Homo sapiens: one gene and its partner. The protein of the gene in region 1 interacts with the protein of each later gene in a pairwise test. Each region holds a gene or a part of one and is shown on either strand. Other genes may lie near its edges.

Evidence for each region.
Region 2: the proteins of GRXCR1 (region 1) and ALAS1 interact in binary tests that used the Homo sapiens proteins (3 or more experiments, as listed by UniProt).

What each region holds. Positions count from the first base shown.
Region 1 is NC_000004.12:43,024,956-43,028,778, forward strand, and holds part of GRXCR1 (glutaredoxin domain-containing cysteine-rich protein 1), read left to right. Parts: intron 1-3,823. UniProt on the Homo sapiens protein: May play a role in actin filament architecture in developing stereocilia of sensory cells.
Region 2 is NC_000003.12:52,200,984-52,204,806, forward strand, and holds part of ALAS1 (5-aminolevulinate synthase, non-specific, mitochondrial isoform 1 precursor), read left to right. Parts: intron 1-1,523; coding exon 1,524-1,751; intron 1,752-2,879; coding exon 2,880-3,029; intron 3,030-3,709; coding exon 3,710-3,823.

The DNA of each region.
Region 1 (3,823 bases):
GGATACTTAACGGACTTTCAAGCTCTATTGGAATAGGATTTGATGATCTGAGGTTAAAAATAATAAGAGCTTCATTTCCTGATCTCAAAGAAGACATGAAGACTCTTGATCTTAGCATCCTGTTTCTATATTGCATAACTGGGGGTAAACTTACATCTTGAAATTTGAAACTCAAATTTCCTTTGCTACAAAGGAAGTCTATTTCACAATCATTCATAAACTCTGCCATTATCTTTGTCGTTTGTCGTTTTTGTCCTTTGTTAGAGACACAATACATTTCGTGTGCTTTAGTTGAGATGACTGCAATATGGAGCAGACCTATCCAAGACTCAGGGGTGAGGCTGAGATGTACTACTAGGAAAGCAGAGAAGTGTCTGGTTTACTGCTATATTCCCATTGCCTTACACAGTGCCTGGCTAGTGAATACTCAATATATATTTGTGGAATGGAATGAATAAGTAAAAGGTCTCACTCACTGAGTATCTATCTTTTAAAACTCACTCACAGGAATAAATGAACAGAAAGAGGTAAAGTGGAGGGTGATTTCTCATTCTTTTTCTCTTGAGCTCCACTCCAAAGTGACTTGTCTCAACCCAAACCACTATTCAGAGGAGAGGAGACACAGTCTGTAGATTCAGTACTCTGTGTGCTATTCTCAACCAGGTCTGCCTGGATTCTTAATTGCTTGCAGGTCAACGTTTCCGCAGCAGTCAATCTCTTCATTGAAAGTGGAAGTCAGGGCCGGGCGCGGTGGCTCACGCCTGTAATCCCAGCACTTTGGGAGGCCAAGGCGGGCGGATCACCAGGGCAAGAGATCGAGACCATCCTGGCTAACACGGTGAAACCCCGTCTCTACTAAAAATACAAAAAATTAGCCGGGCAGGGTGGTGGGCGCCTGTAGTCCCAGCTACTCGGGAGGCTGAGGCAGGAGAATGGCGTGAACCAGGGAGGCAGAGCTTGCAGTGAGCTGAGATCGTGCCACTGCACTCCAGCCTGGGAAACAGAGCGAAACTCCGTCTCAAAAAAAAAAAAAAAAAGTGGAAGTCAGTATTTTTACTAATAGTTACTAATAGTAATGAAGCCTGTTTTGTTACTAGTTGTAATGTTACTAATAATTAGTAATATTATTAGTAAAGTAGAAGTCTGTTTCATCAACTTCAGTTATTCAGTTATTCCTCCAACTCCAAACTTTGTCCGTGTTCTTTGGGAAATTCCTAGCTCTTTTTCTATCTTGATCTGTGGGCAAAACTGTCTACAGAAGGGTTAGACTTCAGAGCAACACTAATATAAGAGCATCCAATATAACCCAACTGGGTTTTCTTTGTACAGAACCCTCTAAATTAGGACCAGACTTCCAGTATAACAAATTGCTCTTTGAAAGACATGGCTAGGCATGACTAAATTATTTATTCTTATTAGAATAATAAATAGCATAAATTGTGCTGGAAGATGTAGCAAGAATGAGATTCCTGGGTGCTGAGGGGGCACTGGGGAGCTTTAGTGGGTTGCCTCAAGCAAGAATGAGATTCCTGGGTGCTGAGGGGTCACTGGGGAGCTTTAGTGGGTTGCCTGAAGACCCACCCACCTCACCACCACTTTGGCTTTAGTCATAGCGTTTATCCTTTCAACTGCTTTACATTTGGGGATCTCATGTTTAGATAATTTGGGAAAAAACGGATGCAAATAAACATTGAAAACTACTATCATAGAGGGAAGACCATAGATTTTGCTCATAAAGAGACCTCTTCAATATTCCACTTTCTAGTTATAACTTGATAATTACTTTTTAAAAACCAGCTTAGAGGCTGTGTTTCCTCATTTGTAAAACGGTGGTGTCTATCACATCAGGTTGGTGTGAGAAGGGGGCAAAGACTCCTCCACACAAGATATAAGCCATCCCTTTCCTCTCTTACGTTTATGGCTGAAATAGCTAATTTTTCCTGAGAATGGAAGTAGCCCGAGAATCTTTCCAGCACTATTCTCCAAGACAACAGAAATAGCACATGAATTGAAACACATTTACTCTCCCTTTCTTACAGTGGCAAAACCTTAAACCAGAAGGCGAAGTATGGAACAAGTGTTTAAATTGAATGACTCTTAGAAGTGTAGAAAATGGTTGTGTCATGTGACCACAAGCAGTTTAGCTTAAGGTAGCAGTTAATAAAAATCATTTCAATAGGAATTTATTAATAAAATAATGGCTAATAATAACTAACTGTATTGAGTGCCTACTATGTGTCAGGCAATGTGCTGTTCACCTCCCATGAATTAGTTCATTGAATCCTCTCAACAATCCTTTGAATGAAAGAGAGATCTAATCACAGAATTGCAGACTCTGAGGATCCTATTTTAGAATGGCCTTGTTGTATTTGTGATTATTTTTAGAAATAAAAATGTAGCTTTGGTATTTATATATTAAGTTTATTTTAGGAAATTTGTTCTGACAAGGGGATAAATTATGAAGAAACAGTAGACTCTTGGTATTAGTGAATTTAACATTTGATATTTTAGCCTTTGAAAGTAATATTTGTAAGTGATGTTGTAGGCCCATTATGTAAAATAATTTTTAATTGTGTTGAGTTACTATTTTGAATTTTGTGTGCTCAGAGCCTGGTGTCTGAAGTGCCACACATAGACAAGGAGCTCAGAAAGCTGCATAGCACTAACATTTCATTCCAGCTTTGTTGTTCTTTGCTTGTAGTCACAAATATATTTCATGAGAAAACCATATGGCTATTCAAGAATATGGTCATTCACAAGTGTCTTGGGTCATAGCAGGAGTTGATATTCACCTAGTGTGCACTGGTACAGCAGTTGTGGTTATTGAAAATATTGAAATATGTTTGTACTCATTAAGATATTGAAATAATTGGTCCAGGTATGGTGGCTTATGCCTGTAATCCCAGCACTTTGGGAGGCCGAGGTGGGTGGATCACTTGAGTTAGGAGTTTGTGACCAGCCTGACCAACATGGTGAAACCCCATCTCTACTAAAAATACAAAAATTAGCCAGGCGTGGTGACATGCACCTGTAATCCCAGCTTCTTGGGAGGCTGAGGCAGGAGAATCACTTGAACCTGGGAGGAGGAGGTTGCAGTGAGCTGCTGAGGTCGCACCACTGCACTCCAGCCTGGGTAACAGAGTGAGACTCCGTCTCAAAAAAAAAAAAAGAGATGTTGAAATAATTTATACGGTTGGTAAATAGCCATTGCCCAAGATGGATTAATATCTCTTTTCTTCTATGTCAACTCTAACCTATAAATTTTGCCAGATACAATGCAGGATGCCCACTTACATTTAAATATCAGATAAATTATAAATAATTTTCTAGCTTAAGTATGTCTCATACAATATTTAGTACATACTTAAACAAAAATTATTTGTGGTCTATCTGAAATTCAAATTTAACTGAGCGTCCTGTATTTTTATTTGCAAAATCTGACAACTCTACTTTACTAGGAACTCAGATCTATTTACAATCTAGCAGTAATGAGTAAAGGGCTGGACTCAGGGTCCCTGCAGGTCCTTACTGTAGGACCTTGGCCAGCCCAGCATTTATTCTGACTTGATGCACTTGTTGTACAAGTCATTAAATATTTTTAGCATATTTAATGTCATAGCAATAGTGAATGACAAGGATCTATCTACATTATATTCTTTCTAGTATTTGATAAGAACTCCACTACTTAGGAATTTTCTCATATTTAGCTTTTAAAGTACACTATTTTTCCATCATTGGGTTTGTTTTTACTCAAAGTTTTTCTTTTTTCTATTTTAATATTACACAAAATTTAAGTGCAGTGCATCCTTTTTTTAAGTCAATT
Region 2 (3,823 bases), on another chromosome or scaffold:
ATGATAGGATTTTTTTCTTTTTCTAGACTTTAATGAATATGTATTACTTTTATAATAAATGAAATTAACTTCAAAATAATTTTTTTGGCCTTCCGTTATAGAAGATTTTAATGAAAACTGTATTGAGACACTTTACCCAAGTTATAGGAAAGGCTAGCCAGTGACTCACAGGAGTGTTCCAGAATGATGAAGAAAGACTTTTCTAGAAAGAAGGTGAATGAATTTGCTCAAGGGGAGAGGGAAGTCACTGTAGCTAGAAGGATAATTACCAGCCAACGGTGTTTAGTCAGCAGACTTTGATGAATTTAGATGAGAAAGTAGATGAGGTATGTGAATGTGATATACCCCTATTTTTTCTTACTTTATTAGCAATCTAAAGACCTAAGTCTTAGTCTAATTTCTGTTGTTTAGATGAAAACCAATAGCTTTTATGTTAAGCAACAGCAAGCCTCTTTGTCAAGAATCTGTTTAGAAAATGTCAGCAGAGACAGGATGTGGTGGCTCATGCCTGTAATTCCAGCACTTTGGGAGGCTGAGGCGGGAGGACTGCTTGAGCCTAGGAGTTTGATAGAAGCTAGGGCCACATAACAAGACTCCGTCTCTACAAAAAATAAAAAATAAAAAGAATTAGCTGGGCGCAGTAGAACACCTGCAGTCCAAGCTACTTGGAGAGCTAAGGTGAGAGGATCACTTGAGCCTGGAGGTCAAAGCTGCAGTTAGCTATGATTGCACCATGCACTCTAGCCTGGTTGACAGAGTGAGATCCTGTTTCAAAAAAAAAGGAAAGGAAAATGTTAGCAGAGAAAAAAATGTGTGTGAATATTTCCCGTTACCTTACAGAGTGTGTCCTCTCATAAAATAAGCTGAGTGTAGTTGGGGTAGAAATTACTGGAAATGATCCAACTCAAGGATTCCGGGTTGTCTAAAACTAGAAAATGGTACTTTTTTTGGATTTATGACGAGAAATACTGTGGGTTTAAGAGGCAACTGGAATGTGCCAGTTAACTCTTCATAGACGCATTGTTTCCTGTGAAGCAGATGAAAAACTAGAGAGATTAGCAGAACCTAATAAAAATAAGCTTGTGGCTGAGTGCAGTGGTTCACGCCTATAATCCCAGCACTTTGGGAGGCCAAGGCAGGTGGATAACCTGAGGTCAGGAGTTCAAGACCAGCCTGGACAACATGGTGAAACCCCATCTCTACTAAAAATACACAAATTAGCCAGGCATGGTGGCACACACCTGTAACCCCAGCTACTTGGGAGGCTGAGGCATGAGAATCACTTGAACCCAGGAGGTGGAGGTTGTAGTGAGCCAAGATTGTGCCACTGTACTCCAACCTGGGGTACAGAGCAAGACTCCATCTTAAAAACAAAACAAAACAAAAAAAACACTTGTGTCTGGATGGTGGGGTACAGTAAGTATTAAGTTTATCTTTGAGGCAATAAAAGAAAGAAATAAGTGGTTTTCTTACATACTGTGCAACCAGATCTGATGCTTCACTTTTTCCATTTCCTCCCTCAGAAGACAAAACTGCTAAGGCCAAGGTCCAACAGACTCCTGATGGATCCCAGCAGAGTCCAGATGGCACACAGCTTCCGTCTGGACACCCCTTGCCTGCCACAAGCCAGGGCACTGCAAGCAAATGCCCTTTCCTGGCAGCACAGATGAATCAGAGAGGCAGCAGTGTCTTCTGCAAAGCCAGTCTTGAGCTTCAGGAGGATGTGCAGGAAATGAATGCCGTGAGGAAAGGTAAGAGATGAGTTGTGAACCATTAGTGGTAGTGAAGGGGTCCTTTTAGTTCTTTTGGGCCCTCAGATTTGTGTATGAGCTATTATTAGGGCAGTATTTATGGAAACACCTTCCTCTTTTAGGGCCAGAGAGGAAGGTCTTCAAGATAGACAGTCAAGGGACTGTATTGCGAAAGTGGGACTTTCTTTCTGGTGCGTGTGTGGGATGTGACCAGCTTTTATAGTTACTACTTAATTTCTGAAAATAACCTGCAGTCTTGAGCTGCCACCAGCTGCCTTTTGTCCCTTTGGTCTTTCCCATCATCTGCTAGGATAAAGATAGAAAATAATGGTTTTACTGCAGTAAGTGCTGGTCCTAGGGCTCCCAAGCCGTGTGTCTTACTGATGGTCATTGAATTGCAACCTTAACTCCACAATATATAGGTGTGGCTATATCTGCAGAGAACTCAAGGCTCCCCAAAAGCCTAACCAGCAGAAATTATGCATATGGCCAAAATTGTTTTCTATGAAGAAAATTGAGATTAGGACCAGGCCCAGTGGCTCACACCTATAATCCCAGCACTTTGGGAGGCCGAGGCAGGTGGATCACTTGAGGCCAGGAGTTTAAGACCAGCCAGGCCAACATGGGGAAACCCCATCCCTACCAAAAATACAAAGATTAGCTGGGCATGATGGCGCATGCCTATAGTCCCATCTTCTCAGGAGGTTGAGGAGGGAGGATCGCTTGAACCCAGGAGGCAGAGGTTGCAATGAGTCGAGATCGTGCCACTGCTCTCCAGCCTGGGTGACAGAATGGGACTCTGTCTCAAAAAAAAAAAAACAGAAAATTGAGATTAGGATTGGGGTGGGGATGTAGTGGAGTGAATAAGACATGCCAACCAGCAAGAAAGCTTTGGACTTTATTGTTCATTAAAGCTGGCCAGTAGCTCTGAAAACAACACCAAGAGTCTGCCATTACAGTAACTAAAATAGAAGAGATGCTTTGTACACTCAGTTATAACTAACTTTGGTTATGCTTGGCCTTTTTTGTGAACTAGGCCATAAGCCATTTTTGACAATATGTTTGGAAGATATTGTGAACTCAGAATAGAAAGTTGGTCCCATTTGTTTCTTGTTACTTTTGTTCCAGAGGTTGCTGAAACCTCAGCAGGCCCCAGTGTGGTTAGTGTGAAAACCGATGGAGGGGATCCCAGTGGACTGCTGAAGAACTTCCAGGACATCATGCAAAAGCAAAGACCAGAAAGAGTGTCTCATCTTCTTCAAGATAACTTGCCAAAATGTAAGTCTCATTGTTATTTGCCTGATGTAGAAAAGAATTTATAATTCAAATGTACATTAGATTAAATATAAAATTGCATGGTGAGGCTGGGCACAGTAGCTCATACCTGTAATCCCAGCACTTTGGGAGGCTGAAGCGGGAGAAGATCACTTGAGGCCAGGAGTTTGAGGCCAGCCTTGGCAACATAGCAAGACACTATCTCTACCAAAACAGTTTTTTTAATTAGCCAGGCATGATGGCTTGCATCTATAGTCCCAGCTACTCAGGAGGCTAAGGTAGGAAGATTGCTTAAGCCCAAGACTTCAAGGTTCAGTGAGCTATGATCACGCTATTGCACTCCAGCCTGAATGACAGACAGAGACTCAGTTTCTAGGAAAAACAAAAAAATGTATGGTGAGTTGAGGCTTGAAAGCCATATCCCTTGCTTGCGTGAGCAGGTGCTTTTGGTTGTGGTGACTACAGGTGCTGTTGGTAGCCTGCCTTCTGTCCTTTAATACTTACCGTCTACACATGGCACTGAGCCAAACACGACATACAGTCTTATTTACTTACAAGATGAGGACATCAAATAACCTGCCCAGGATCTCCCTCAGTTGCCAAGCTGAGACTTGTTGTATTTCACCAAAATGCAGCTGTGTTTCACAACCACCATTCTGTACTGTCTTTTGTTCAATTTTTAGCTGTTTCCACTTTTCAGTATGATCGTTTCTTTGAGAAAAAAATTGATGAGAAAAAGAATGACCACACCTATCGAGTTTTTAAAACTGTGAACCGGCGAGCACACATCTTCCCCA